Linked DNA regions of Homo sapiens: region 2 is linked to region 1. The links come from fine-mapping of genetic effects on gene expression. A gene starts in region 1. The other region holds a variant in brackets. All regions are shown on one strand. Distances are from middle to middle.

Evidence for each region. PIP is the estimated chance that this variant, and not a neighbour inherited with it, causes the effect.
Region 2: its variant is the best candidate, but not a certain one, in a credible set for the expression of SIAH1 in whole blood (INTERVAL, PIP 0.64).

The regions. Positions count from the first base shown.
Region 1 is chr16:48,382,967-48,387,358 of GRCh38, reverse strand. SIAH1 (siah E3 ubiquitin protein ligase 1) reads left to right here and starts at 1,946. Exons shown (of 2, transcript NM_003031.4): 1 at 1,946-2,155. RefSeq lists silencers at 1,518-2,337, 2,438-2,507, 2,598-2,867.
Region 2 is chr16:48,198,490-48,202,881 of GRCh38, reverse strand. ABCC11 (ATP binding cassette subfamily C member 11) reads left to right here. Exons shown (of 30, transcript NM_001370497.1): 15 at 2,403-2,606. Among named protein-coding and RNA genes, the nearest start is that of LONP2, 44 kb to the left of the region's middle. The variant T/C (reference allele first, on the strand shown) is at 2,241.

The DNA of each region.
Region 1 (4,392 bases):
AATTAACCAAATCAGATTGAGCCCCGCCCAAATCTAGGTAGGAATTCTCAGAGATGGAATTAACCCGATTAAATTTGTTTTGTATAAAAGGGAAGTGGGGAAAGTAAGAAGTAACTTGGACTCTTCTAGAGGAGAGCAGGCACAAACTAAGCCAAGAAAAGCACGTTTGAGAATTCCAGAGGCAGAAGTTGCTTCTGGGTGCCTGACGTCAACGATCCAGCACTTCAAGACTGGTGTGCGGCATCCTCAGGGGACACTGTGTCCTGGGCACCCCTGCAGTTTAAGAGAATCCACTAGTTTATAAGGTAAGTCCTCGACTGTCAGCAGTGGGCCAGAGACAGACTGTTATTTTCAGATGGACAAATGCTGTTGGGTAGAGGAAGGGATGCGGGATAAGGAGGACAAAATCTGACTTTGGCAAAGCCGGGTGTTTAGAACTTTAATCGCCACGTTGGCAAGTTCTCTCTTAGTCCGTATCCATTTCACTGCTTGCAGAGCGGCCCAGGGGTTCTGGGGGCGAGAAACACATCTCACCCCAGAGCTGCTCCTCGCCCAGGACAGAACTCCTCTGCCCTTCACGACCAGGTCAAGGCCACATGGCTATGCCAAGCACATAGTCTGTAAAAATGGAAAATTTACCTCTAAACTGAAGTGAACCGAACTCTATTGACCTTCCCGTGTACTGAGGAGCTATAACTTCTCCCCAAAAATGTGAAAGTAAAATTGCAGTTTAAATCATGTAATTAGGAATACTGTAAACTAGTGTTTTGCACATATAAACTTTATCATACACTGGGAATTTGTACATACGTGCCCGGTATGGGATTTTTCTATTTTTATTTTTATTTTTTTGAGACAGAGTCTCGCTCTGTTGTCCAGGCTGGAGTGCAATGGCCTGATCTCTGCCTCACTGCAACCTCTGCCTCCCGGGTTCAAGCGATTCTCCTGCCTCAGCCTCCGAGTAGCTGGGACTACAGGCGTGCACCACCACGCCCGGCTAATTTTTGTATTTTTAGTAGAGATAGGGTTTCACCATGTTGGCCAGGCTACTCTCGAACTCCTGACCTCAGGTAATCCATCGGCCTCGGCCTCCCTAAGTGCTGGGATTACAGGCGTGAGCCACCGCGTCCGGACGGAATACCATTTTAATAGATCTTACATGGAATTCCAGTTAGGGCTTGTAAATGTCTCAGATGCTTGCTTCTGCTCATAGCACCCATCAAAGAATTGCAAGTGATGTTTTCCTTTTATTATTTCAAGAAGTGGAATGCAGAGTCCCTAATTAGGGACTTTCCAGATGAGCATGGACACAGGAAAACGCGTGCTTCCCCATTACCCACTTTTCAGCTGAAACAAGCTTTTGAAGCTCGTCCCGCTGTTGCTGAGGAGCGGCTCAACCTCGGGAGAGGCTGGGACTCTCTTTAGGGGTGGGGTCCCGGTCGGCGGGCAGGGCAGCCGCTTTTTCTTTGGGACTGAGTGGAGTTGGGAAGGATCCGTGGAGGCGCTGGGCTAAATCAGCAGACAAAACAAGGGGGAGGGCACAAGGCCGCGGCGGCGGCCAGCCTGGGGCTCGCATCCCGCTGGGCGACCCCTCCGGCCGGAGCCGGGGGGGTCACGCGGCCCCGGAACAAAGCGCCGCGGGAGGAGCTGCCCTGAGCCGACGGGCAAGCGCTAGCTTCTCGCGGGCCAGAGCGCCACGTGCCAGGATCCGTTGAATGCGCGGTGCACGGGCGCAGCAACGGTAGCCGAGTAGCCCCCGCACCTACTGCCGCCTTTGGAGACCCGCACAGCTACGCCCGCGGAGGCCGCCGCCGGCCGCGCCAACGCCTGTGCGCCTGCGCGCCCGCGAAAGCCCCGCCCCCCCAGGCTCCCAGCGCGCGGGGCCGCGCCTCCTCATGGCCGCCGCCGCAGTGTGTGGTATTTAGCGGGGGCGCGCGGCGGGCTCGAGGACGCGCGAAACGGCGGCGGCGGCGGCGGCCAGGGGGGAGCCGGGGCGGCCGTTGCGGGGCGCGCTCTCGAGAGGCGGCGGCGGCCCAGGGTGTCCCGTCGGTCTCGGCGCCGGGAAGAGGCGGTGGCGCTGCCCGCGGTGGCGGGGGTTGGCGACGGAGCGCGTTGGTGCCAGGACCGGGGTCCGAGGCGCGCTCTCCGCCCACAGGTAAGTGGGGCCCGGCCTGAGGGAGGAGCCGGCGGCGAGGGGCTCTCCGACAGGCGGGCGCCCAGGCCCGGTAATGGCGGAGGGCGGGAAGGGCGGCCCGGCCGGGGCGCGGGCAGTAGTCGGCGCGGCGGCGCCTTTGTCTCGGCCGGAGTCGGGCCGCCCGGTCGAGCGCCGCCCCCCGCCCCTCCCCTGCCTTCAGCCTTCGCAAGCCGGCTCGCCCCCGCCCCTGGAGCCCCGGGCCCGGCGGGGTGGCGGCGGGGGTCGGCCCCGCGCGGCCGGGCCGAGGGCGGGGGAAGGGCCTCGGCGGCGGCCCGGCCCCCGCGCGCCCGGGAGGCGGGCCCGGCCGGGGGTGGCGCCCGGCGCGCCCCGCGCCCTCGTGCCGGCCTTTGTTGTGGAGGGTCCCGGGGTGTGCGGCCAACATGGCGGAGGTCAGCTGAGTGCGGGCAGCTGCCGGGGCCCTGCCCTCCCTCCCCCTCCTCCCCGCGGCGCCCGGAGGCCCGGGCCGCACCGCGCCGCTCGGCGGGCCTCGGCCTCCGCTCTCTGCCCCCGACCCCCGGCTGGAGCCGTCCGGGACGGGGCTGCGCTCTTCCTGCCGCTTCGGCCGGAGGCTTCATTGTGCAGTGGGAAGAATGCAGCCTCCTCCCTTGTTTATGTCGTTAGAGAGGAGAGCGCGTGAACGGCGTGCCGGGGAAGCTCTAGCTTATTATAAACCTGGCATTTCCTAGGGTTCATTTGCCGGGTAGTTTGGGGTCCTTTCTTAACTCTCCCAAATTTATAACTTAAAGTGAATAACCTGGGCCACTCCGATGCGTAGGTTCGTTTTCGCTGTCTGCCCGTTCCTGGAAAGATACATAATTTGTTTGCTCGGACATTCAGAAAAGTCCAGCTTGGGTGTTCGGAAAATCAGATTGTGTGTACTTCTTTTGCCAAAGTCATAGAGGCCATAAACAAACAGAGAGACATGGATACTGGATATGGGACGGTGTTCTGACTGTCCCTTCCTAGCAGTTGAGCATTTACCTTTGCTTATAGCGGCTGTCAAGGGTAAATTGTTAACTCTTCAGCAGTTGGATGTTGAGAGCACGGGCTGTGAAGTCCGACTGTCTGCTTTGGGTCAAATCCTGCTCCACTGGTTTGTGACCTTGGGCAGATACTTCTCTGTGCTTCGCTTTCCTTATCTGCAAAATGGGTGTAACGACAGTATCTACCTCAAGCCCTGTTGAGAATTGATGAGATGACAATAGGTGGACTGAAAGCAGTGGCAGCCCCATACTAAGTTCTCAACAAATGCTTACTGTTAAGACTGTAGTTTAATAGCTAAACTTACGAGGTTTTCTTGGCATGATGTGTTGGTATGATGAAAGTGCATAGACCAGAATTTGTGAAATCAGGTCACAGATCTTTAGTGCTGGGTTTTTTCTTTCAATGCATTTTGTTGTTAAAAAGGACAAGGAGATTTGTATGATAAATTAACAGACTTTCTGAGATGGTGGCATTTTGGAAATTGCTGTGGCCGGGGATTTGAATGGCTATATCTTTGTGATTAAAAAAAATCAAATTGATTAAAATGAGGTCTTCTCTTAGCTAGTTTAGATTTATTGATCAGTTCACTTTCAAGGACTTGAGTTAACCAACTTAGAAAAGTGGGACAGTGAATACTTGAGTGTGTATCTATGGTGTTACCATCACTTTTAGAAGTTACTGAAGAGCAGAATGTAGTGTGGTGGCAAATGTAATGGTCTGGTAATTTTATCTGGGAGTTGTTGGCTCAAATTATGGTGGAGAGGATTTTAATTAGTTGTTAGGAGGACTTTAGACTGGTAGATCTTGAGACTCAAAGTAGATTACACAAATTGGTTGTGTAGTGTTTCATTCTGAAAATTTAAATAAAGATACAGATTTCTGTAATCTTGGATGGTTAGTTGCGATTATATCCAGAATTTGTTCCCCAAAGTTTATGCCAAACAGTTTTTTTTTCGTTATTGGCATCTTTCCAACATAATTTACTAACATTTAATATTTTAAACTGAAATACGTATAATAGATGTGAAACTGATAACTTTTCAGGATAAGTATTCCACAAAGTACAAATTCAGAAACAATGTTAATGCATTTTACATCTGTTAAATATTAATCTATTCCCTCTAAGCTTCGGGAAGTTCTTACGAAATTGCTGTAGAGAAATATTCTTTCTTAATATCTGTAATTAAAAAGCATGATTAGGTTAAATTGGAGTT
Region 2 (4,392 bases), 180 kb after region 1:
AATTTCTGACTGTAACATTTCCCCGATAATTCCAATCTTTTACATCTGCAGCCACCTTAATACACATACGACCCTCACCCGAGATAAAAGTGGCATTGCCTTCTTGATATTAATGGTCTAATAATATCTCAGTCTGTTGAACACTTACTACATGCAAGGTGCTATTCTAGTGACTTGAATGTAGTGTCTTAGGTGAGAGTCACGATAATCTCAATAACCTCAGGAGGGTAGTCTCTTAATTCTTCTTCTTCTTTTTTTTTTTTTTGAAGGGGAGTCTTGTTCTCTGTCTGTCACCCAGGCTGGAGTGCAGTGGTGCGATCTCGACTCACTGCAACCTCCACCTCCCAGATTCAAGAGATTCTCCTACCTCAGCCTCCTGAGTAGCTGGGATTACAGGCATGCACCTCCAGGCCCGGCTAATTTTTGCATTTTTAGTGGAGACAGGGTTTCGTCATGTTAGCCAAGCTAGTCTCAAACTCCTGGCCTCATGTGATCCACCCAGCTCGGCCTTCCAAAGTGCTGCGATTACAGGCATGAGCTACTGCGCTTGGCCTATTCTTCTTCTTTTAAAGCTGGGACTATAAATCCTTGATGGCAGAGAGCTCAATGATCTTATTCAAGGTTGTTTCTTCAATAGGAAGAACAAGGTCTCATCTGTAAAATGGCATAAATAAGAGTACTGACCTGATCGGATTGCTTTGAGGTTTAAATGAGTTAATACAAAGTGTTTTGACTAGTGCCCGGCCTAGAGTAAGTGTTAACTATTATTGTAAGAGCACAGTAGGCATTGAATAGTGTTTGATGAATAAGTAAATGAATGAATGGGGAAACTGGGCTTTGGCCAGATCAAGCAGGTTGTCCAAGGTCACACAGTGGTGACCTGGAAGCACGGCAGGGACAGGAGTTTTCTCTGCCACCATTTCAACTCTGATTCTTCTCTACAGAGACTTCAAGCAGTCAGGATAGAACAGGAACTAGGACTTACACTCCAGCTCCCACTTCCTCAGAGCCTCAAGGAGGGATGGGCCAGCTGGCAGCTGCCTGGAGTGCTAATCTGCAAAACATGCTCAGTAACTTGGGTTTCCACCCTCAACTCCTATCACAGCAGGTGCCGTGTGAGATGGTCCTTCCAGCGTCAGTAAAGCTCCTTGCAGCCATTGTAGCTCTGGTCTGTTGAGTGGGTGCACACAGTGCAAATAGTCTTTGACGACACCTGTAACCCAGGCCAATGGTCCCACAAGTTGACAGGTGCTGTCAATGGAGATTAAAAACCTGAATAAGGCCAGGTCCAGTGTAACCCCAGCACCTTGGGAGGCCAAGGTGGGAGAAATTGCTTGAGCCCAGGAGTTTGAGACCAGCCTAGGCAATATAGTGAGACCTCATCTCTACAAAAAAAAAAAAAAAAAAGAAAAAGAAAAAAAAAGGTTTAAAAACATTGGCTAAGTGTGATGGCACCGCCTGTAGTCCCAGCTACTCAGGAGGCTGAGATGGGAGAATCGCTTGAGACTGAGAGGCGGAGGTCGCAGTAAGCCATGATTGCTGGTGCCACTGCACTCCAGCCTGGGCAACAGAGGAGACCCTGTCTCAAAAAACCAAATAAATAAAACCAGAATAATATGTGAGACAGTGCTCTGACTTGGGAATAAGTGACTTATTTTATTATCTGAATTTTTAATAGTTTAATGTTTGCCTCCTAGAAGTTGATAGGTTTAGAAAAATTGTATCTAAGTAAGAGTTACAATTTTTTAAAAGTCATATATCTTTAAATTTAGATTCAGGGGATACATGGAGAGTTGTAAGATTTTTAATTAATTGAGAAGCAATTTATTCATCCCCTACTAACCACGTTTTGAAAAATATTTTTATTGATGCATAATATTTGTACATGTTTTTTGGGTACCTGTGCTATTTTGTTATATCTGTAGAATATGTAATGATCAGGTCAGGGCATTTAGGGTATTTATCATTTCTATTGTGCTGAGAACTTTTCAATCCTATCTACTAGCTCTGCTGAAATATACAATACATTGTTGTTAGCTATAGTCATCCTATTCTGCTATCAAACATTAGAACTTATTCTTTCTATCTAACTTGATGTTTGTATCCATCAGCCAACCTCTCTTCATTCTCACCTCCCTTCCCTACCCCCAAAAATCCTTTCCAGCCTCTGGTGTCCATCATTCTACTCTCTACCTCCACGAGATCAGCTTTTAAGCTCCCACATATGAGTGAGATATATA[T/C]GTATTTTTAAGTCCAGAATGCCAAATTATCAGGTATCCTGGAGTGTGTGCATATCTTGGTCTGTACTGAGGGGGTTCTGTCTGCTACATCTGCCTACCCATTTGAGCACACCTGGCTGTGCTTGCTGTCTGGACATGGTGCCTTTTACTGCCTGTCTGCAGATTGGAGAGCGGGGCCTCAACCTCTCTGGGGGGCAGAAACAGAGGATCAGCCTGGCCCGCGCCGTCTATTCCGACCGTCAGATCTACCTGCTGGACGACCCCCTGTCTGCTGTGGACGCCCACGTGGGGAAGCACATTTTTGAGGAGTGCATTAAGAAGACACTCAGGGGGAAGACGGTCGTCCTGGTGACCCACCAGCTGCAGGTTAGCACCCTTCCAGGGCTCTGACTGTGATTGACGGATAACGTAGATCCTCAAGCCTTTGCCATTTCAGAGTGTGATTCAATAACAGCCTCCCAGCAGCTGTCCTCATCTCAGGTTAGACTCCTCCACATTTGGGGAGGGCTGTAAAAAACTTGGATTTCCTCTGCTTTCCACACAAAGCAAACAGACTGGTAGAAGATTTTTGTGCTGGTAAAAATTGAGAACAAATTTTATGGTCTCCTTTATCTTCAAAATTTTTTGAGTAGACCCCTGCTTTTCAACTTATAAAAAATGAAAACAGGCCGAGCACGGTGGCTCATGCCTATAATCCCAGCACTTTGGGAGGCCAAGGCAGGAGGACTGCTTGAGACCAGGAGTTCAAGACCAGCCTGGGCAACGTAGAGAGACCTCCCATCTCTACAAAAATTTAAAAAAATTAGCCAGGTGTTGTGGTGCATCTGTGGTCCCAGCTACTGGGGAGGCCAAGGTGGGAGGATGGAGCCCCGGAGGTCAAGGCTGCAGTGAGCTGTGAGTGCCACTGCACTCCAGCCTGGGCAACAGAACAAGACCCTGTCTCAAAAAAAAAAAAAAAAAAAAAAAAAATCAATAAAAAAGAAAAGAAAAGAAAAAGAAACCAATCTCTCAGAAAAGAATTCCCCAAGTCTCCCATTCTTAGATTGAGAGCCATCTCAGTGTGTTTTCTTACCGATGATGACCGCAGTGCAATGACTGCTTCTGGTGGTGCTTCTCCTGGGTCATTTTCCCTTGAATATTTTCATCTATGGCATTGGCCACAGTGCCTTATTATTTTCTCTCCCCCTTCTTCTTCTGTTTCTTTTTCTCTCGCCCCTTATTTTTGCTTTACTATTTTTTTTTGGTATAAAATATTTAAGACCTAAACAAGGTTTAGAAAATAATTAATAAAAACCCATGTATCTACCACCCAGATTAAACAATAAAACATTGATTCCACTCTCCAATTCTGTTCCAGTTCTCCCTTTCTGCTCTCCTGACTTTGTTGTTTATTGTTTCCATGCATGTCTTCATACTTCTACAGTGTATGCATGAATCTCTAGACATGAAGAAATTCCTTTTGCATATTTTTAAACTTTATAGAATTTATTTTTTACTTTCTGTGTCCTTTGGTAATTTCATTTTTTCCCTCAACATTATGTTTTTTGAGATCTTCCATGTTGATACTTGTAACTTTATATATATATAGATATATATATATATTTTTTTGAGACAGAGTCTGACTCTGTTGCCTAGGCTGGAGTGCAATGGTACAATCTCAGCTCACTGCAGCCTCCACTTCCCAGGTTCAAGCAATTCTGCCTCAGCCTCCCGAGTAGCTGGGACTACAGGCACACGCCACCACACCTGGCTGATTTTTGTATTTGTAGTACAGACGAGGTTTCACCGTGTTGGCCAGGCTGGTCTTGAACTCCTGACCTCGTGATCTGTCCACCTTGGCCTCCCAAAGTGCTGGAATTACAAGCATGAGCCACTGCACCCAGCCTTATAACTTTATTTAATTCTCCTTGGTATAGCATTCCAATATCTGAATGTACCAGAATTTATTTCTCCAAGATGAACAGTTGTTTCTTATTTTTCACTTCTACAAAAAAAAAAAAAAAATACTTCAGTGTATATCCTTCTACGTGTACCTTTGCACACATGTTTGAGAGTTTTTTTGGGTAGGGTTTTAGGAGTCGAATCGTTGGTTCATAATTCTTCAAAAATCTTCCATGTTACTGAATAGGTCAAATTGTTCTCCAAAGTAGTT